3 linked regions of the Homo sapiens genome follow. The protein of the gene in region 3 interacts with the protein of the main gene of each other region in a biochemical or structural test. Each region holds a gene or a part of one and is shown on either strand. Other genes may lie near its edges.

Region 1 (7,717 bases), on a different chromosome or scaffold from region 3:
CACCACTGCACTCCAGCCTGGGCGACAGAGGGAGACTCTGTCTCAAAAAAAAAAAAAGTGAATTGATGTGAGGCTGGCCTGGCCATGCCACAAGGGAGATGGAGTAATTATTCAAATCAACCTCATTGCAGGCCTGTGGGTTAGGGTTTTTCAAAAGTGGTTTGGGGGAAGGGGTTGGTGTGGCTGGGCAATGGGTGCTTGCTGCTGACCGAGTGGGTCGGAGATGACATCATGGGAAGATGTCCTTTTGCACTGAGTTGCTTCTGGGAGGGGCCACAGGAGCCATGGTCAGTGGGTCCAGGTAGAGCCATGGGTGTCAGACATGCCCAAAACCTGCAAAAGTATCTCAAAAGGCCAGTCTACAATAGCGACATTAACTGCAGGACTAACTGGGGAGGTTGCTGTCCTGTGACCTCCAGAATAATGGCTGGCAATTGTTTGTCTACACCTTAGCTGAACCCAGGCTCCTCTCCTTCTCCTAGCCTAGTCTCTCATGAGCTTTGCAAAGGTGGTTGAGTTTTGGGGAAGGGCCAGTATCATCTAAACTGTAAACTAAATGTCTGCCAAAGTTAGCTCAGCCTAAACCCAGGAATAATCAAGGCAGCTTAAAAGCTAAAGGCCAGAGCCGGGTCAGCTGGTTCAGATCTCTCCCACTGCCACCATTTTCTCATGGATACAATTTTTGCAAAGGTGGTTTCAGAGGTGGGAGGATCACTTGGGCCCAGGATTTCAAGATTAGCCTGGGCAACATAGTGAGACTTCCAGCTCTACAAAAAATGAAAAAAATTAGCCAGGCATGGTGGTGCACACCTGTGGCCCCAGCTACTCAGGAGGCTGAGGTGGGAAGATTGCTTGAGCCTGGGAGGTCAGGCTGCAGTGAGCTGTGATCGTGCCACCGAACTCCAGTGTGGGCAACAGAATCAGACCATGTCTCAAAAAAATAAATAAATAAAATAAAAAATTCCAGGGCTTTTGATTGGAAAAGTAATACAAATTCTAGGTTGGCTTTGATTAGCATACCAATAATAACAATACTGACAACTCACCCTGGAGCTCAGACACTGTCCCAAGCTTTTTGTACTTAATTACTAATTCACTTAGTCCTTTAAAAAAAAATTTGAGATTGGTTATTAGCATTATCCCCACAGAGAGAGGCACAGAGAGTTTCAGCAATTAGTCCTTCACCACACAGCAGGTGCGAAGAAGGGCTGGGTCCACACTCAGGCAGCTGGGCTCCAGCACCTGCCCTCCAAGATGGTTTGAAAACATCTGCTTGCACCCACACCTGCAGCACGAAGGCAGCTTTGACATTGCGAGACAATGAACACACAAACAGAAAACAGCCAGACCAAATATGGGAAGAGAACTCTGAGCCACAGCGACTGTCCAGAGGCCAAACCTCAACTTTCACGGCTAGCCAGAAGCTTTCTGCCCAGGTTCTGTACATTTATTATATATTATATATTATATTTATTATATATTTATTATAACTAAGCATTCAGCAGAAATAGAGTTACAGGCCGGGTGTGGTGGCTCATGCCTGTAATCCCAACACTTTGGGAGGCCGAGGCAGGTGGATCACCTGAGGTCAGGAGTTCAAGACCAGCCTGGCTAACATGGTGAAACCCCGTCTCTATACAAAAATTAGCTGGGCTTGGTGGCACGCACCTGTAATCCCAGCTAATCGGGAGGCTGAGGCAGGAGAATCGCTTGAACCCGGGAGGCAGTGGTTGCAGCAGTGAGCCAAGATCATGGCACTGCACTCCATCCAGTCTGGATGACAGAGCGAGACTCTGAAGAAAGAAAGAGAGAAAGAGACAGAGAGAGAGAAAAAGAGAGAGAGAGAGGGAGGGAGGGAGGGGGGAGGGAGGAAGAGAAGGATAACTCAGCATTTGTCAGGCTACACTTTAACCCACTTCCTTCTAACTGAAAGTCACGTAGCGCTAGTGACTATCTGCACCCCTACTGTTCCTATGGACGGAATCTCTGACTTCAGAATCATGAGGCTTTTGTTTAAGAATTCCTTAAGACGTTTCAGATCCTTAATTCCAGGCCAACCAGTTTGAAGAGCCCCACAGAGGAAGTGAACCAGCATGAGAATACAGCATCTTCAACCCCACCCCATGACTCCACCCTGCTTCACCCTGCACTTCTCCACCGGTCAGCAGCCCCCGCCCTCAGCCCACTCCAAACCCCTGAAAGTTCCCAGCCCCAAACTCCTCAGGGAGATGGATTTGAGGTCTCCTCCCAGTTACAACCTTGCGGTTCAAACTGTCTGCTGCAAACCCTGGGTGGCAGTGTGCTGACTTCCTGCACCCTAGGCAACGGACCTGTCACGGTCACACTCCTAGTGAGCCCCTCTTCCGTCTCCCCAGGCCACAGCCTCCCTCAGGTGCACCTGAGCCTCCCCTTCCCATTCCAGGCTTTTCCCCGGCTCTGCCCCCGCCTGCTGAGGAATCTCGGTCAACACAAGAGAGGACGGCGACTCCCTTGTACAGCAAGTCCTGAATAAATCGTCTTTTGTTCTCATTTGCGTGGGCTTTATTTCCACAGCTGTTATCCTCCTATTTGTAAAACGGAGGCACCTGGGACCAGCTCCAGCAAGGAGAGTGAGGATCCGACTCCAGGAAGCACCTCAGGAACAAAGGCCTCAAGGCCAACACCTTCCACGGCACAAGCCCAACAGAGCTGCAGGAACCGTACAAGCAGCGGGAACATCCCTTTCTCTTCTTGACTATGTTTTCCCCTGATGCTTTGCTTTCCACATAGAAGAGTTTTCCATTTTCGTGGGGTCAACTCTGCCTTCACTCATTCAACAATGATGGGGGGCTCTGCCCCGCTCCCCCCAGGCTTCAACCACACCTGACTGCCCACCCCTTTGGGCCCTTCCCTGAAGTGACAGACCAGGCTGTGCCCTGGCAGGTAAGAGAAAGGACCCCACAACCCATTCATGGGCCGCTCCAGCTGGGGCCTTGCATGCAGGAGCGGACCAGTCCCCCTGAGGGACAGCCCTTGGGTGGGGGCTCTGGGTCATTTTGAGGAGTCAATCACACCAACAGGTGCCTAGCACAGGCCCCACCCCCACCCCAAATAAGGCAAGCGACCCTTCCCTTCCGCAGGTGGTCCAGTCTAACAGAAACCCTAAACCAAAGGGACTGTGTGGTGGCTCAAGCCTGTCATCCCAGCACTTTGGGGGATGGATCGATTTTAGCCTAGGAGTTCAAGACCAGCCTGGGCAATATAGTGAGACTCCATCTCTACAAAAACACTTTTTAAAAAAATTAGGGGTGCAGTGGTTTATGCCAATAATCCCAGCACTTTGGGAGGCCGAGGTGGACAGATCGCTCAGAAGTTCCAGACCAGCCTGGGTAACATGGTGAAACTCTCTGTCTCTATATATGTGTGTGGTAGGGTGGGCCTGTGGTCCCAGCTACTATAGCAGCTGAGGTGGGAAGATCGCTTGAGCCCAGGAGGTCCAGGCTGCAATGAGTTGTGATCAGGCCACTGCACCCCAGCCTGGCCAACAGAGCAAGACTCTGTCAAAAAAAAAAAAAAGAAAGAAAGAAAAGAGGTCAGGTACGGTGGCTCACGCCTGTAATTCCAGCACTTTGGGAGCCCGAGGCAGGTGGATCACGAGGTCAGGAGTTCGAGACCAGCCTGGCCAATATGGTGAAACCCCGTCTCTACTAAAAACACAAAAATTAGCTGCGCATGAAGGCGCGCGCCTGTAGTCCCAGCTACTCGGGAGGCCGAGGCAGGAGAATGGTGTGAACCCCGGAGGCGGAGCTTGCAGTGAGCCGAGATTGCGCCACTGCACTCCAGCCTAGGCGACAGATCCAGACTCCGTCTCAAAAAAAAAAAAAAAAAGGCCGGGCGCAGTGGCTCACACCTGTAATCCCAGCACTTTGGGAGGCCAAGGCGGGTGGATCACAAGGTCAGGAGATCGAGACCATCCTGGCTAACACAGTGAAACCCCGTCTCTACTAAAAATACAAAAATTAGCCAGGTGTGGTGGCGGGCGCCTGTAGTCCCAGCTACTCGGGAGGCTGAGGCAGGAGAATGGCGTGAACCCGGGAGGCGGAGCCTGCAGTAAGCCGAGATCGCGCCACTGCACTCCAGCCTGGGAGACAGAGCGAGACTCCGTCTCAAAAAAAAAAAAAAAAAAAAAAAAAGAAAAGAAAAGGAAAGAAAGAAAAGAAATCCTAAAACGCAAATTCCACCAGAGAACCCTGCCTTCTTCTCATCCCTCTGATCTACCCCCTGCCCCCACCCAGCCTGGAGCGCGTGGGCGCCGTCTCCCCCTCCCTGGGCCCCTCTGTCCACCCCCTTCAGCCTTCAGTGTTCTCGGTCACAAGCGGTGATGTCCACTGCAGCCCGCACACCTGCTCCCGCGGGGCCGGGACCCCTGACCCCTGACCCCTGCAGCGCTGCGCCCCGCCCTCCCTCGTGCGCGGCCCGGACCCCGCCACCCTGCAGGATTGCGCCTACTCCGACTGCCCCTTCCCTATCGTCCCACCCTGCGCGCCCAACCCACCGGCGACACCCGGCCGCGCCCCCGCCCCGGTCCGTGTGACTCGGCGCCCGGAAAGACGATACCAGCCCCGGGAGGGGGGCGCTCCCTCCCGACACCAGCGCTGGGCGCGGAGACCCAGCCTGCGGCGAGTGGTGGCCAGGTTCCCCGCCCCGCGCCCCGCCCCGCGCCCCGCCCCGCGCGTCCCTTCTTGCGGGGCCACCGCGACCCCGCAGGGGACTCCGAAGCCAAAGTGCCTCCTCCCCGCCCCTTGGTTCCGCCCGCGCGTCACGTGACCCCAGCGCCTACTTGGGCTGAGGAGCCGCCGCGTCCCCTCGCCGAGTCCCCTCGCCAGATTCCCTCCGTCGCCGCCAAGATGATGTGCGGGGCGCCCTCCGCCACGCAGCCGGCCACCGCCGAGACCCAGCACATCGCCGACCAGGTGGGTGGGCCGCGGGGACGGGGCCGGCCCGGAGTCCTGCCTTAGCCTCAGGGCGCGGCCGCGGCTCCTGGAGCGAAAGAAGCCGCTTTGGCCCCGCTGCGCACCCCTGGGCTGGCCCGGGCTGTGGCCGTGAGAGGCCTCCCTCCGCTCGGGCGCTGCGCGCGAGTGAGCAGCGGGGGGCCGCGCCTGGGGCGCCGCTGGGGAGACATTGGGCTCCGCTGAATACAGCAAGGGCGAGTGGGAATTGATAGCCCGGAGCAGGGTGCGGTCCCTGCATGGACAGTCTCTGAGAGGAAACCCCAGGGATGAGGCGCTTCTGGTTTCAGGCAGGCAGGGTGATCGGGCGTCGCCGGCGATGGCGCAGGTGAGCAGCCGGCTCCGATCTCCACGGTGATCCGATAGCAAGCGGGTGGGAAGGGTCTGGCTAAACTGACTTAGCCAGGCTTCTTGCTAAAAGTGGATTTTACAAGGAAGTGCGCAGGTGGCCTAGGCGCTTCAGGAGCCCGACTACAGTTTGGCCAAGCAAGAATCTTTGTCAATATCCTCATCTAGTTCGGGAAAAAAATCATGAGAGAGAGTGCAAGAGGTCCCCAGTGATAAGGCACATGGGTTAAAAACTTAAGTGTATCTGCATAAAAGGTCCACAGGTTTCTTTACATGCTTCCGATTCTAGCACTGTTTCAAACTGTAAGTCTAAATAAAAAGTTAAAACACAGAAAAACAAGATAAAAACCGGGCTGGGTTGCAGATGGCAACCTTCCCTGTGTCTCGGTTTCCTCGTCTGTAAAATGGACGTCCTGTTGCTCTGCGCCTGCCAGAAGATTCTGGAGGGGCTGAAATGAGCAGGTCATCTGTGCAAGAAGCCCCCTCCGGTGGAGCACAGGCCAGGCCCGCCTCGCTGTCATGGTTGGTGACCGACGGGATGCCCCAAGCAAGAACAGGTCCAGGCGATGCTGAGGCCTGTGTTTTTTTTTTTTGTTTTTGAGACTCAGTCTCACTCTTGCCCAGGGTGGAGTGCAGTGGCACAATCTCGGCCCACTGCAACCTCCGCTTCCCAGGTTCAAGGGATTCTCCTGCCTTAGCCTCCCGAGTAGCTGGGATTGCAGGTGCTCGCCACCACGCCCAGCTAATTTTTGTATTTTTAGTAGAAACGGGGTTTTGCCATTTGGCTAGGCTGGTCTCAAACTCCTGACCTCAAGTGATCCGCCCACCTCAGCCTCCCAAAGTTCTGGGATTACATCCTTGAGCCACCGTACCCAGCTGGAACTGTTTTTTTCTACTTTATTATTAGGCTGACAGTTTAAATGTCCCTTCAGTTGTAAGAGACAATTGTGTGAAGAGCCAGTGTCAGAATCGTGTGTGTGCTCACATGCGTGCAAGTTACTCTAGCAGGAGGGAATCCAAGAAGCCACTGAGACATCCTCATTCTGTCCCTTCTGTCTAGGTGAGGTCCCAGCTTGAAGAGAAAGAAAACAAGAAGTTCCCTGTGTTTAAGGCCGTGTCATTCAAGAGCCAGGTGGTCGCGGGGACAAACTACTTCATCAAGGTAGAGTGTGGGCCTCAGGAGGGCCTGCCCCGAACGGGTGCTGGTAGGAAACCGCCTGTGCAGGCCCGGGCTGTGTGGTCTTAGGTGCTGGGGCGCCCTGTGGCTGCCCCCTGAGATAAGCATCCTACTGTGTGTGTCCATCGGCCTTTCAGGAGGACTAGGGCTTCTGGGGAGCTAAGAACCCCAAGGAAACAAGTGTGGGATGTGAGGCATCCCCTGCACATGCAGGAGAAGACAAGATTGTCTTCAGCTGGCTGCTAATGACCTGGAGGGGCGCAGCAAGGTGACTTGGGATCAGAGGCTTCGCTCACTCCGCTCTCTTCCCAGGTGCACGTCGGCGACGAGGACTTCGTACACCTGCGAGTGTTCCAATCTCTCCCTCATGAAAACAAGCCCTTGACCTTATCTAACTACCAGACCAACAAAGCCAAGCATGATGAGCTGACCTATTTCTGATCCTGACTTTGGACAAGGCCCTTCAGCCAGAAGACTGACAAAGTCATCCTCCGTCTACCAGAGCGTGCACTTGTGATCCTAAAATAAGCTTCATCTCCGGGCTGTGCCCCTTGGGGTGGAAGGGGCAGGATTCTGCAGCTGCTTTTGCATTTCTCTTCCTAAATTTCATTGTGTTGATTTCTTTCCTTCCCAATAGGTGATCTTAATTACTTTCAGAATATTTTCAAAATAGATATATTTTTAAAATCCTTACAGATTGCCTCCTTTGTTTTAGACTTTTTTCTTCGTCTGAACCACCCCGGGCAGGTCCTTCCCCTCGGGGGCATGGAGGGCGGAGAGACTGCCTGGCTCACACAGCAAGCAGGTGGTGGACCCAGGATTCACACCTGCCCACTCCGGCCCGCGTTCCTAACCACCACTCTTTACATGTTGGTGCTTTGACTCTTAGGTCCTGGCCCCAAGCTTCAGTTTCTCCCATAAAATAAAAGAGTGTGAGTAAATCCAATTCCAGAGCATAACTGGCTCCAGATCTCAGATACATTCACGCACTTTATGCTCTGGTACGGAGAGGCAGCCACACAGTGTCGTGCACGTGCAGAATAGCCTGCAGCCTCACTGAGTGCCCTGTGGTGCGGGAGGCTTCCCATGGAGCCACGTGGGCTTCTAAAGGGAGGTATCTTAGGAGAGCGTGGCTGTTTTTAAAAACACCTTCTAGTTTTCAACAGGGATTACTTCCCATTCATGGAATTGGTCCGGTGCCTTC
Region 2 (7,637 bases), on a different chromosome or scaffold from region 3:
CCCCCATGTATGTGAATGTATGTGCACAGACACCCCCACACATATGTGCACACACATATACTCACACACCCACACCTATCCATGCATAAACCCCCACACTTCCCCAACACATCCACACACCCACTTGCACACACTCACGTGCACTTCCCCACACAAACCTATACTTGGAAACACATATGCATCTCCACGTGTACACACACTCAGGCACATGCACACGTACCCTGCAGAACATGTGCATCACACACACACACACACACACACACCCCTCTGCAGTGTATGACTGGCCCTGGACCCATATAAGGCACATACCCTTTTCAGATGTGGCTGGTCATGGAAGGGGCAGTTGTCCAAGTTGGGCTGGGTCTTGGTACACGTGGTTCGGCCCAGCTCCACGTCCAAGAAGTAGTTCACCCCAGCTACGATCTACACATGTGAAAGAGCAGGAGGCAGGGACAGCACGTTCTGTCAGTTTCTTACACACACAGGCACTTCACTGTGACCGGGTCACTGGGCTTGCCTGGGGCTTCAAGCCTACCTTCATGAGCTGCCCACATTGTCACCTGCAAGGCACACAAGCCACCTCCTCCTGCCAGCTGGCAGGGATGCCATGCCCCAGGCCTCCCCGGTAACTTGTTTCTCTATGCCAATGCCAAGGATTAACTGAATTCCGCTACCTATGACCCAGGGGGCAGGGACACTGGATCTATTCTAGGAAGGTTCTCATGTGATGATGAAATTTCGGCAAACTTCCAGTTCCTGGCATTCAGTCCACAGAGCATCTCATTCCTGCCATTTAACCCAGAGGTATTTTTCCTCATTTCTCACTAGGAGATGAGATGCTCACATACATTGATGTTTTAGGCCAATAAACATTGCTTCCCACGTGCTTCCATTCCAGGTGTGATTTTCAAGGCAATATTTCTAAAGTGAGTCACACACCTGCATGTCTTAGGGTTGCAACTTCAGAAGAGAACTGAATGCTTTCCCTGCACAGTGCCGCCCCAAAACATGACTTGTCAGAACTGTGGAGAAGCATGGGATGAGGGACCCTGGGACCAGGGTGCTAGACCTTGCCCTGTGGAACCACACACAAGTCCTGTAGAAGCACAAGCAAGGCCTGTGATCCCTCTGGTGTCAGTCTGCTCCTCTGTAAAATAGGCTCCAGGGCCCAACGATCTACAATGCCCCATGCTTCACTCCCAGTGAGAGAGAGGTGCAGGCCAGCGGGGACCCTACACCAGGGAATGGCCCTCCTGTGCAGGGAGAGGGCCCCAGCTGACGGCTGCGGGAGAAACGCGGCTGGTCTGGACTCCTCTGAATTTCCAAGAGAAGGTGGAGGAGCTCTAAAGTCTGTGTCACTGTTCGCTGCTCTGCCATGGGATGCAGGTCAAGCTGGGCCTGGTAGCCCTACTGAAGCTCCCTCCCGATCCGACCCCCTACTCCGGTCTGCTGGGTGTCTTCATCTGGCTGAGGTCTAACTCTGCATCAGCTGATAGAGGCAGGGTCAGGCATGCTCCACCCCAGCAGGGACTCAGCTGCCCTGGGATGTAGGGGGTGGTCAGCCGGCCTGAGGGTGAAGGCCGCTAGTCCTAGGGGACTGTGCCCAGGGGTGTGACTTGGGGAGGGAAGCAGGGCTCTGCAGGACAAGGTGCCAGGCTCACGTGTGGCCCCTGCGGAGAGTATTCTGGGAGGAGGATGAGCCGCATGGCCTAGATCTCATCTTGAGCAGCATCAAGCCCACCCAGAGTCAGCATAGTCTCCATCCACACCTGCTAGACCCTGGGAAATGGCACGGTCGTGGCACAGACCCAGCTGCTGCTGCAGGTTAAAAGAGGCCGAGGGGACAGGACAGGGCTGAACTCATGCACTCATGGCCCAGGAGCGTCCTAGGGCACGAAGGCCGTCAACAGACAGGGAAAGCTGAATGAGTCTGAGCATTAGATCATGAATGTGTCAGTGCTGATTTTCAAAATGGAATAGTGATTATGTGCGATATTGCCCTTGTTTTTAGGAAAAACACACTGAAGTGTTTACTTTCAAAAGATTCAGGCAAAAAATGCATATACAGTACATATACACACACCCATATTCACATTCGGAAAGTGAGCTGGGGGGAACAAACAGGGCAAAATGTTAACATCTGTGCTAACATCTGAGGGATCTGGGTGAAAGATCTACAGGGATGCCCTGTGCTATTTTGCAGCTGCTCTGTAAGTCTGAAATTACGGGAGAATAAAAAGTTAAAAGAAACAAAAGTGCTTAAAAATTATTTGGTGGAAGAACAAGGAGGCAGCCAGATGAGGGGCTCTGTTTTTCCTTCTCCTGCGTATTCAGCAGCGCACCCGGAGCCCAGCGTCCCAGGAGGTCGGGACAGAGCTGTGTGGGACGTCCTGTGCCTGCCCCCGCGCTGCGGCGCAGCTCGAGCTGGCTCCTGGAAGCTGATCTTAGGCGCCGGGCGCGGACCTGACGTGTCCGTGCGGTTCCAGGCCAGGCCAGACTCAGGGCATTCCCGGACACGCCCGCCAAGGGCTCGGGGGTGACAGCGAAGACCGGGAACAGGGTCCGGGTGAGAAGCCCAGGCGCCGGAGAGGAGCAGCACGGGGTCCGGGAGCAGCGCGGGGGGAGGCTGGGACGGCGGGGCCGGGGCTTCGGACCCTGCGGGGGGCGGCACGCACCTGCTTGCGGGCGCGCACCACCTGCAGCGCGCGGCTGTGGTACATGTCGTTGCTGGCTTTGTTGTACTCGCCGACGGCAAAGTCCAGTGCACGCCGCACACCCTCCTCCTCCACGCTGGCGTCCATGGGGCCTCCCACTAGGCGCGGCGGCTTGCCGGGACTGGAGCCGGCCGCGGGGCTCACGGCCAGGGCCACGGCCAGGATGGCCAGCAGGAGCAGCGGGGCGCGCAGGGGCCCGGCCATGGTCGGCTAGGACGCGGGACGCGGGGAGTGGGGCGCAGGCGAGAGGCTGGAGCTAGATAGAGAGGACCCGCTGCGATACCGAGGCGAGGCCGTGAGCCCCGCGAGGCCGGCGACTGCGGTTTTATCCCTTCCGGCCTTCGCCGCCCCACCCCACCGCGGCCTGCACTCCCTTTTCCGGAACGCCTCGTCCCTCCCACCTCCCTTCTCCCTCCCCGCCTCCCCTGCCTCTCCCCGCCTCCCCTGCCTCTCCCCGCCTCCAGGTCCCTCCCTATCAGTCTCCTCCCATCCCAGCCTCCCCTGCCCCTCCAGGCTTCCCTGTCCTTCCCCATCCATCCCCTTCCCTCCCCTCCCAGCCCCTCCCGGCCTCTCCTCTCCCTTCCCGCCTCCCCTCTCCCTCCCCTCCTCCCCTGGCCCCCCAGTCTCCCTGGCCTTCCCTATCCATTCCCATCCATCCCCTCCCCTCCCCTCCCCCTCCTCTCCTACTGTCTTCCAGCCTCCCCTGCCTCTCCTATCCTCCCCATTCCTCCCCATCCATCCGACCATTCCCACCTCCCCACTTCGGGCCCCTCCATGCCGCCACTCTTCAGGCTCCTTCTCCTCTGTCCCTTTCCCCTTTCAACCCCCAGACACCGCCTCCCATGCCCCTCATCTCCCTCCTCCACTCCTGTCCTTGCTCCCACTTCGCCCCCACCCCAGCTCGGCCCCTCTTCATCGCCCCTCCCTCGTCCCGCCCCTCCTCTGTCTTCCCTTCCTACCCATTCCTGGCCTCTCCCTGTCCCTGTCCCTCCTATCCTCTTCTTTCCCCTCTTCTCACCCCACTCCTGGCCCCTCTTCCCCCACCCCTTCCACACCTATGCCCCCCTTCTACCCACTCCACCCCCTCAGCTCCATCTCTTCCCAAAGACCTGTCCCTCCTCCCAAGCTTAGGTCACCCTGCCCTCCAGAGAGGTGTCAAGGCCCCCTGGGCCCTAAAAGCATACGACCCCCTAGCTTCATTTCCTCAGAAAAGGGAAAGATAGAGGTCTCGGCCTTCCGGAGTCTTCAGAGGTCCTGAGTATCCGTGAGCATTTGGTCAAGGTCTAGAAATCACTAAGGCAGAGGTGTGATTCCAGAGGCCACAGGAGACTCAGGCCATGCCCTGTGCTAGGGAACTTTTCAAACAGAAGAATTAACCTTTATTTGAGTAAAAAACTCTGGGTTCTCCTTTCACAACTCATTATTCAGTAAACAGACTTTTCACCAGCTTCCCCCTGCACCAGGTAGTCTAGGAGCTAGAGACGGAGCCTGGGTGACCGAGCCATGGACACTACATTGCAGGGCTGCTGCCAGACAGAAATGTGACACGAACCCAGGAGCAATTTAAAACTTTCTGGGAGACACATTTCAAAAAGTAAAAAAGAAACAGGTGAAGGTAATGTTTATAATATTTCTTACTTAACCTAATATATCCAAAATATTATTTCAACACATAAGAAGAATCATTAATAACATAGGTTATTTTATTTTGGGTGTGTGTACTGAGTCTTTGAAATTCCCTGTGTATGTGGGTGTCAATTGTACTGGCCCCATTTCAAGCACCCTGTGGCCACATGTGGCTGGTGGCTGTGGCACTGCACAGCCCAGCATTAGGGTGTGTGGGAGGATGGCGAATAGTGATCAATAATTAATATCAGGAAATTAGTCTCTCTGTTGGAAGTGAGAGTATGGGATAGAGAGAGATGATGCCACTGGACCTGGTCAGGGAGGACTCTATGAGACTGGAAAGGTGAGAAGCCCTGCCTAGACAGGAAACAGCCCCAGGCAGCGGGAAGGGCCAGTGCAAAGGCCCTGAGGCGGGGCTGGGCATGCCTGCTCCAGGAAGAGGAAGCTCCTGGAGGGAGTGTGAGCAGGGAAGGGAACGATCTGGAGTCTCATGGTAACTGTGGGTGGGGCCGGGTGGAAGGTGCAGTGAGACCCATTGGCAGGCAGTGGGGGTGTCAGGAGAGGGAGCAGCAGCCACAGGATGAATGTGGGAGCCCACGGGTGTCTCTTGCTCCTCCCCTCTGGGCGTCATGCTGCTGGCGCTGGTCCTCTGCACTGCTTGGAAAACTCACCTGAGTTTAGAACATCACTGTGAGTGAGGTAGAATTTATAGACAACAAAATGTCTAATCTGGGGGATTTCATTAACGCATATACCCGTGTTACCACTTTGTCCAGACCTGTGACATCTGCCTTGCCCCAGACGGTGTGTCCTCCTGCCTCTGCAGCTCACCCTCATGCCCATCCTGCCCTGGCAGCCCCCATCCTGCCCTATAGACTCGTTTGTCGCCTGTCCTTGAGCTTCCCAGAAATGGAGTCCTGCAGAGCAAGCCTGGGTGTGTCTTTGTCCTTTGCTCAGTGTGGCTTTCCAGTGGGCCCTGAGTTCCTTCATTGCCAGGATTGTGAGTTCTTCTCCCCAGACTGAGAGGACCTGATCAGCTGGGTGCCCTGTGGGGTGACAAAGTCCCCAGCTTGGGATGCTGCGGACCTGGGCTGGAATGTGACTCCAGGAGTGGCGAGGGTGGAAAGGAGGCTCTGAACAGACAGCTGCTCCCTTTGTTCTCTCAACCCCACCCTCCATGCCTGAAGGTGACCCTGTGGCAAATGCCCTTATGGCGAGGTGGCAGCTTTGCCAGAAACACCAGAAAACTCTGGGCCTTTGCAGGGCACCCAGAGGACTCTCCTGGGAGTGGTGGAGGTGAGGGTCAGCCAGGGTCAGCCCAGACCTGCTGTGATCCTGGGGCTCCGCCATGGCTGGGGCTGGATCAGCAGGAACCCGGCAGCGGGAACAATATTACTCATGGATGCTCATGTTCAGTGGTGGGACAGGGGACCTTGTTACCCGAGGCCCAGTGACCATCTCACCCCACTGTCAATCCAGCGTCCCTAGAAAAGCCATGCACCCCAGCAGATACAGCAGGTGGCCCAGATGGTGTTTACTGCTGGGTGAGGGAAGGAAGGTCTTCAAACAGGGTTGCGCATATGCCTCCTAGTTAGACAGGAAATGGGGAGAGATTTTCAGAGAAGGGAAAGAGAGGGCAGCCCCTGGCCAGGTGCTTGTGAGCAGAATGGTCATCTCCCAAGTGTGGGAGTTGGTTCTTCTCTGTGGCTCCCACCTTCCCTGGCCACTGGGGCTCTAGTCTCAAGAGGATGTGTTGTGCAGAGGGTAAGCTGAAATACACACAAATCCCCTGTCTTTTGTCATTAGGAAGGACGTGCAGGTCACCCAAATAGCAGGAGCATGGTGGTAGGTGGGGTGTGAGGTGGGAGCTGAAGTGCTGGCCTATTTCCCTGTATGTGATTCCACCGCCGGTGGTCATCCTCTGTCAGGACGTGCCCTGCAGGCACATGCTGCAGGGAGGGTCAGCTGGCCTGATGCAGCGACCTCTCTAACCCTTGTAGGACAGACACCAGTGTAGGGTGCTCTCAGGAGCTGCAGGAGCCGTGTTCAGTATGCTGTAATAGGAAGTGAAAGGTTACAGTAGCTGGGCAGCTGCTCCTGATATTTGGTGACCTTGAGCAAATGTTTTGCCTTCTCTGTGGTCATGTGTCTGGAGAGGTAGACTGCCTTGTAAACTGTTGTGCCTGGGCATCAGTGATGATGTTTAAACACGATTAAAAGTAACAGAGCAGCCTACAGCTTCAAAGACATGCTACAGAGACACAGAGAGAAACAATGGACCTAGGACTGAGCCTGGGGCCTCCAGCACCCATGTACTTGGAGGAGTCCAGCTGCCCAGGAGGGGGCATATTTCCCTTCTGCCAGGTGATGAAAGAGAAAGCCGTGGTCTCCCAGGCTGCCTTTTTGACTATTGATCTCATCATCTGAATTAGTAGAGTGAGAAATTAGGTAAATGGCAGAAATTCTCTATAATAAATAAGCAATAATAACAACACTAAACAATGCTATAATAAATAAATGACCAAACACATAAACAGCACCTAAAGGTGCAAGTGGTTAAATCAAGTTGGCCAAGAGTTGAGATTCTGCACTTTGGGTTTTGAGCAATTATCACTCGGTGTCTATAGAGGGAGCTTGGACTGAGCAGCCACGGGTTTTGGTAGCCTCTCAAAGGCAAAGCCCAGGAGCCTTCCTTATGGAGTGCCCGGAGTCCTCTGGGGTCAAGCCTGTCCCTTACACACAGGCTCCCTCCTTCTCCCCTCTCTCTCCCCAACGATGGAGGAAATGCAGATGCTTCTAGACCGTAGGCCAACATTGGTAATGCATTTGGCTCCAATAGAGATGAAGCCACATCATTAGGAAACTGATCCGCACTGGGAAGCCTGCTGGCAGCCTTGCAGACTGAGGCGAGAAAGGGCAGAGCCCGGTGTCTGCGGCCCATTTTGCACTTCATGGGGGGATGAGAATCCTTGGGACATTTCTGCTCAGGAGCAAATGTGTAAACGGCGCTCATCATTTTGGATTACAGGGTTAACATTTATTTTCTCAAGGAGTGCATTCACCAGAGCAGAGCCAGTGACTGAAGAACCACATCTGAGTGGAAGGGAGAGAGAGAGAGGCCTCCAGGGACACAGGCTGCTGGCTGGTGCTGCCAGGGCTCCACCTGACTCCCTGCAGAGGCCTGGCCACGAAGAAAACAGATGGCTCTGAGGGGGTTGAGCAATCCCTTTGGCATCTCTGAGTGGTCAGTTTACTTTCTAGACCCACGTTCTTGTAACATTCCCCTCTTAGTGTTTC
Region 3 (7,062 bases):
ACATATTTCTGAAAATACTGGAAACAATCACAGCCAAATAAGAAATCCAGTTCATTTCAACACTGAATAGTTGGGCACTGTAGCGTATTCAAGGATAATTTTTAAAAATTAAAAAGTTAAATCAGGCTGGGCGAGGTGGCTCACACCTGTAATCCTAGCACTTTGAGAGGCGGAGACAGCAGGATCATTTGAGCTCAAGAGCTTGAGATCAGCCTGGGCAACATGGGAAAACACCGTCTCTACAAAAAATACAAAATTAGGCTGGGCCCTGTGGCTCACGCCTGTAATCCCAGCACTTTGGGGGGCCGAGGCAGGTGGATCACGAGGTCAGGAGTTCGAGACCAGCCTGGCCAACATGGTGAAACCCTGTCTCTACTAAAAATACAAAAATTAGGGGAGTGTGGTGGCGGGTGCCTGTAACCCCAGCTACTCAGGAGGCTGAGGCAGAATTGCTTGAACTCGGGAGGCGGAGGTTGCAGTGAGGCGATATCGCACCACTGCACTCCAGCCTGGGCGACAGAGCGAGACTCTGTCTCGGCAAAAAAAAAAAATTCATATTAGCCCCCAGAGAAACCCCACACCCTTTAGCTGTCACCTACCTAACCTCCCATGTGGATTTCACGGAATCATACAATACTGAGTCCTTTGGACCTGGCTGATTTTACTTAGTAAACGTTTTCAAGGTTTATCGATGTTGTAGCATGTGTGACTACTTCATTCCTTTTTACGACTGAATAAAACTCCATTTGGTGGATTTATGACAGTTTGTTTATTCGTGCAATGGTTTTTAATGGATGGACATTTGAGTTGTTTTCACCTTTTGGTTACTGTAAATAATGCTGCTATAAACATCTGGTGTAAGTTTATACATACGTTATTAACTTTTGTTTTAGAGTTGGGGTCTCACTATGTTCCCCAGGCTGGTCTTGAACTCCTAGGCTTAAGTAATCCACCCACCTCTGCCTCCCAAAGTGCTGGGATTACAGGCGTGAGCCCACTGTGCCCGGCGGATTTTTGTGAGGACGTATGTTTTCACCTCTTTCAGGTGTTAACTTAGGCCTCTTTTACGGATGTTCAACAAGCAAACAGCTTTTACACACGTGAGTCAAGGCCTCTCTGTAAGTTCTGAGAGCTGTTCCCCAGGCCCTGAACCCTGACCCCCAAATCTAGCAGGTTAAGCCAAAATTCTCCTCAACTTCAAGGCCTACTTCATTCATTATGCATCCACTCAACTCACATTTCTCTATCCTCTGCTATGGGCCAGACACCCTGCAATGAGCTGGGATGAAGCAGGGGAACACCGCAGGTAAAAATGCTTGCCTGGGTGGGGCTTAAGATCCAGTGAGGGCAGGAAGGAACATATACAAGTAAATATGCTGTATGTTCCTTTCTCCATGAAGCTTTCCTGGATGTTCCAGGAAGGGACGAATTCTACTCTGGTAGTAATATATTTCTTTTCTTGTCTTTTGAGGAGTCTTGCCCATGTTGGAGTGCAATGGCGTGATCTCGGCTCACTACAACCTCTGACTCCCTGGTTCAAGGGATCCTCCTGCCTCAGCGCTCGAGTAGCTGGGATTACAGGCCCGCAATGCCACACCCAGCTAATTTTTGTATTTTTAGTAGAGACGGGGTTTCACCATGTTGGCCAGGCTGGTCTTGAACTTCCAACGTCGTGATCCGCCTGCCTTGGCCTCCCAAAGTGCTGGGATTACAGGCGTGAGCCACTGCGCCTGGCCTATTTCTTTTTTTCTTTTCTTTTCTTTTGAGATGGAATCTTGCCCGGGTTGGAGTGCAATGGCGTGATTTTGGCTCACCGCAACCTCCACCTCCCGGGCTCAAGCGATTCTCCTGCCTCAGCCTCTCAAGTAGCTGGGATTACAGGCGCGTGAACCACCACGCCCAGCTAATTTTTGTATTTTTAGTAGAGACTGGGTTTCACCATTTGGGCCAGGCTGGTCTGGAACTCCCGACCTCAGGTGATCTGCCTGCCTCAGCCTCCCAAAGTGCTAGGATTACAGTGGTGAACCACCGCGCCTAGCCTGTTTCTTTTGTTTCAAAAGTGATTTTTACCTCTCAAAAGTGATTTCTATAATGACACTGATGGAAAATTCCATCAAATAGCCATAACGCATGTCAAGCACTCTGCTCTGCATACCTTCTGTCACACTCTAAGGATGAGAGAGGGGAGAGTTATCCTGGTTCTGGCTGTGTCCTCCCCATTTTGGCCATCTTATGAGCTCCTTATAGAGGTCTGAAATGATTTGGAGTCCAGAGTCCATGGCTGTCAGGATATGACTAGGGTGAGCAGGCAGTTGGGACCACCTTGACCTCCAGCCTCCTGGTCCTCAGTTCCTCGGGTATCCCACTCTGCTGGGGGCTTAGTGACCATGTTTGGGCTCCAGAGATTATTTTTTCCTTCCACTCCTATCCTTAGTTTGTTACTAACCAGGCGGGAGTACAGGCATGTCTCTGAAGACAGGCTCAGGGCTGTGTGACAGCTGACGACCAGGCTGCAGGGAACCAGGTCCCATGCAGTCCTACTGCCTTTTTTTTTTTTTTTTTTTTTTTTTTTGAGGCGGAGTCTCGCTTTTCGCCCAGGCTGGAGTGCAGTGGCACGATCTCAGCTCACGGGTTCACGCCATTCTCCTGCCTCCGCCTCCCGAGTAGCTGGGACTACAGGCGCCCGCCACCACGCCCGGCTAATTTTTTGTATTTTTACTAGAGACGGGGTTTCACCGTGTTAGCCAGGATAATCTTGATCTCCTGACCTCGTGATCCGCCCGCCTCGGCCTCCCAAAGTGCTGGGATTACAGGCGTGAGCCACTGCACCCGGCTACTGCCTTCTTACTGTCGCCACAGCCTGGATAAAATACGATTCTTCTGAGCCTTTTTTTTTTTTTTAATACAGAGTTTCACTCTTGTTGCCTAGGCTGGAGTGCAATAGTGCGATCTCTGGTCACCGCAACCTCCGCCTCCCGGGTTCAAGCGATTCTCCTGCTTCAGTCTCCCGAGTAGCTGGGATTACTGACACGCGCCACCACGCCCGGCTAGTTTTGTATTTTTAGTAGAGACGGGGTTTCTCCATGTTGGTCAGGATGGTCTCGAACTCCCGACCTCAGGTGACTCACCGGCCTCGGCCTCCCAAAATGCTGGGATTACAGGCGTGAGCCACCGAACCCAGCCCCTCTGAGCCTCTTGAATACAACTGGGGTCATGCCTGCTTTGCAGGTTTGTCTTAAGGATTAAAGCTGTTTGGGGAGTGTCTGGAGGAGGGTGAGTCTTGAGCCAACCCCTGCATCTCCCTTCCAGGGCCTCCCGGTAATAAACCCCAAGTAAATGTGCACTTTGTCCGTCCTCTCGGAGCAGGTCTCCGGGTACTCCTGTGCCAAACCGATTTCCGCCCCCAAGGTCCTTCTCCTCTTAGAAATCCTGACGCAGCTCCTAGGTTCCTTCGCAGTGACAGCCACTCTTTTCTATTTGTACGTAGCTGTAGTGTTTTGTGGGTACGTTCTCTGAACAACAAAGTGGCCCTTCTAAAGGCTGTTCTGTGGGGTCCACAGCCTCGCCACCCCCAGCCTCTGCAGCGGCTTCTGAATGAATGAAATAAGCGACGGCGCCCTCTCCACCACCCCACCCCCGCCAACTCGGCAGGCAGGGATCCCAGGCGCGGGTTCTGGCGGAGGCGGTCCCGCGAGGCGGGGGGACTTTTCTAGGCGGGGTGGGGGCCTTGGGACCACCTTTAGGGGCTTTTTCCCCATCCCCTGGCCCCAATTCGCAGCGTTTCGCCACCCAGGGCCCGCAGGGCTCCAAGCCCTTCTTCCCCAGCCCGCGCGCTCAGGCCCCCGCCCGCCCCCGGCGGTGGCCCCGGACCCCGAGCGGAAGGGGGCGGGGGGTGTGCGGGGCCGGGAAGCGGGGAGCGCGGGCGGCGGAAGGTGGCGGGAGGGGGTGGGGGCTGGGAAGCACCGTGCGCGGGCGGCGGGAGGGCCCGGGCGGGGCTGCGCGGTGGTCACGTGGGGCGGGGCCGGGAGGGTACTTAGGGCCGGGGCTGGCCCAGGCTACGGCGGCTGCAGGGCTCCGGCAACCGCTCCGGCAACGCCAACCGCTCCGCTGCGCGCAGGCTGGGCTGCAGGCTCTCGGCTGCAGCGCTGGGTGAGTGCTGGGGACCCGGGGCCACCGCAGCGTAAGTGACCTTGGCGGGGACGGTGCTACCCGGCCGCCGAGACGGGTTCCTCTGCGCCCTCAGTCGGGCCCAGGCGCGGCCCCGCGGCGTCCCTGGGGGCCGGCGGGGAGCCGGGACCCTCGGGACTGTCCCTGACGGGCGGGCTGGGGTGGGAGTCCGCGCGCTCCGAAGCGTCGGCGAGAAAAGCAGAAAACAGCTCCGCCCGCCAGCCCTCTGCCCTCCGCTCCCCTCCCCGGGCTGTGCGCCGGACCCCGGCCCTCGGAGCGGGGACGCGGCCAGGACCGCCGAGGGAGGCGCCTGCGAGGAAGAGCTCGGCCGGGTCCGGAGACTGCTGCCTGGGACCGCGCTCCCAGCGCCTGGGCCTCGGTGTCTCCGGGCCAAACTGCCGACATAATCGCATCTGCCGGCATCTATTTTCGGTTTATTTCCCCCTCATTGCGAAGGATTTGCCTGGCCAACTTTCTGCGCAAGATCCCACGCAATTCCTGGGACCCCAGAAGACAGGTCCTGTTGAAGAACAGGAATCTGGCACTGGGTGGGCTGGGGAGGAAGCCGCACGGTGTTAAATCCATAAACAGGAAGAGAAACCAGACAGCGAAACCAAGAGGCGAATGGGCGATTGGATGCCGGTGGGGAGAAGGCCGGGGGCGCACCCTGCTCCTGGACTCCAGTAAAGGGAGGCCGGGCAGAGTCCCTGGGGCGCCACCTCCCCCTCGGTTAGTAGCCCTGGAGGCCGGGGGGAGTTGGCCTCTGGGGAGCAGTGGGTGCTGGGTGTGGGGCGTTGCAGGCAGGCTGGGGTGGGCGACCCAGGTGGAAGTGAATTGCACTTGGCTTCCTGGTGGGCCTCTGTCACCCCCTTCCCAGGCGCTGAGAAAGCCAGCAGGCTGGCAAAGAAAAGGACCCTAGCGCAGGCCCCACACTCCTCCTCCTAACGGACGAGAGACCCCCCAAACCCACTGGAGAAGTGACGCTGTGGGGTTCAAATGCAGACCTGGCACCTTTTTGTAGCCTGGAAAAACATTCCCACTGCCTGCTGCCGGAGGAGAGGATAGCTGAGATGCACTCTCTTTGAATCCAAACGTTCAGGAACGTAAGGCGAAGAGGCCTAAGAGGGCGTTGGCTGGCTCTGTCTCTCAGGCTGGAGCACAGTGGCGCGATCTCGGCTCACTACAACTTCCGCCTCCCAAATTCAAGCTATTCTCCTGCCTCAGCCTCCCGAGTAGCTGGGATTACAGGTGCCCGCCACCACGCCCAGCTAATTTTTGTATTTTTAGTAGAGATGGGGTTTCACCATGTTGACCAGGCAGATCTTGACCTCCTGACCTCAGGTGATCCGCCTGTCTCGGCCTCCCGGTGAGTCACGGTGCCTGGCCAAGAACTGTTTCTTGTTGGCTCTGGTGCTGGTGACTTAGAACCCGCCAGCTCCTGGAGAAAGGGGCTGGGCCGCCCACCCTGTGTAGCTTTCCCAAAGACAGAGTCAAACGTCTCCTGGAGAACAGAGGCTTCCCTTCGTCTTTGGTCATTTGTCCTCTAGCTGGGGGTACCCCCTGGTGGAAAGGCACAGGTCCCTTGCTCCCCAGGTGGCAACGCAGGCCAGACACGGCCCTGGCACAGCTCTCCTGGGTGTTGGCTCAGGACAGCCCTGTTTCCAACTGGTTAGGCGGTGAGGGGTGGTGGCCCTTTGGTTCCAGGTTGAAACTGCCCATGTGGTGCTGATTTAGCAGACTGGGGAGGCTCTTTTTGTAGGCAGGTTCTTTTCTTTCCCCAGCTGCTGGACCTGGGAGTTGGAAGAGAAGTTGCACCCATTTTAGGGGTAACAGATATTTTCTGTTGCTCTTGGTTGGATTGGGAAGTGAATTGAAGGGAGGTCACGTTTCAGGGGTGCCTTGGGATGTCTGTCAGTGATTTTCTTTTCTTTCTTAATTTCTTTTTCTTTCTTTTTTTTTTTTTTTTGAGACACACTCCCTCTATCGCTCAGGCTGGAGTGCAGTGGTGCGATCTCGGTTCACTGCCACCTCCGCCTCTCATGTTGAAGCAATTCTCCTGTCTCAGCCTCCCTCCCAAGTAGCTGGGATTGCCAGTGCCCATCACCACACCTGGCTTTTTTTTTTTTTTTTGTATTTTTAGTAGAGACGGGCTTTCACCATGTTAGCCAGGCTGGTTTTCGAACTCCTGATCTCAAGTGATCCGCCTCAGCCTCCCAAAGTGGTAGGATTACAGGCATGAGCCACCGCGCGGTGGAGGGGTAATTTTCTTAAATCTGGTAATGAGTTGTGGTTGTGTAGAGTAACATACCGTCCTTTCGAGATATGGACTGAAACATTGAGAGGGAGGAGTTACAGGTATGTCGATTCTTCTTTTCTCTCTCTCCTTTTTTTTTTTGAGGTGGAGTCTGACTCTCTCACCCAGGCTGGAGTGCAGTGGCAAGATCTCAGCTCACTGCAACTCCGCTTCCTGTGTTCAAGCCATTCTCCTGCCTCAGTCTCTCAACTAGCTGCGATTACAGGCATGTGCCTCCACACTCAGCTAATTTTTTTATTTTTAGTAGAGATTTTTTGTCTCTCCTAAAAAAATCCAATGTAAAAAAATCCCAATGTGGGGGTTTTGCCACGTTGGCCAGGCTGGTCTCGAACTCCTGACCTCGTGATCCGCCCACCTCGGCCTCCCAAAGCGCTGGGATTACAGGTATGAGCCACTGCGCCCAGTCTGCTGCCTCTTTTCAATGGTCTGGCCTAAGGAAATTATTGGAAACATGTGCGGTTGAGTGATATTTACTGGGCACTTCCACATGGTCCATGTAAAGGGAGATGGTTGGGGTGACAGGCAGTTGAGTCTAGGGGAGGCATGTACAGATGTGCTGTGCCTCTGGGATATCAGGGTGG

The links.
Region 1: the proteins of CTSB (region 3) and CSTB form a complex in vitro, tested with the Homo sapiens proteins (2 studies listed by BioGRID).
Region 2: the proteins of CTSB (region 3) and CST3 form a complex in vitro, tested with the Homo sapiens proteins (one study listed by BioGRID).

The regions. Positions count from the first base shown.
Region 1 is NC_000021.9:43,773,439-43,781,155, reverse strand, and holds CSTB (cystatin-B), read left to right. Parts: upstream 1-4,847; 5' UTR 4,848-4,886; coding exon 4,887-4,952; intron 4,953-6,396; coding exon 6,397-6,498; intron 6,499-6,825; coding exon 6,826-6,954; 3' UTR 6,955-7,206; downstream 7,207-7,717. UniProt on the Homo sapiens protein: This is an intracellular thiol proteinase inhibitor. Tightly binding reversible inhibitor of cathepsins L, H and B.
Region 2 is NC_000020.11:23,634,945-23,642,581, forward strand, and holds the start of CST3 (cystatin-C precursor), read right to left. Parts: upstream 3,012-7,637; 5' UTR 2,919-3,011; coding exon 2,676-2,918; intron 424-2,675; coding exon 310-423; intron 1-309. UniProt on the Homo sapiens protein: As an inhibitor of cysteine proteinases, this protein is thought to serve an important physiological role as a local regulator of this enzyme activity.
Region 3 is NC_000008.11:11,865,088-11,872,149, reverse strand, and holds the start of CTSB (cathepsin B isoform 1 preproprotein), read left to right. Parts: upstream 1-4,062; 5' UTR 4,063-4,149; exon of another isoform or gene 4,150-4,896; intron 4,897-7,062. UniProt on the Homo sapiens protein: Thiol protease which is believed to participate in intracellular degradation and turnover of proteins. Cleaves matrix extracellular phosphoglycoprotein MEPE. Involved in the solubilization of cross-linked TG/thyroglobulin in the thyroid follicle lumen.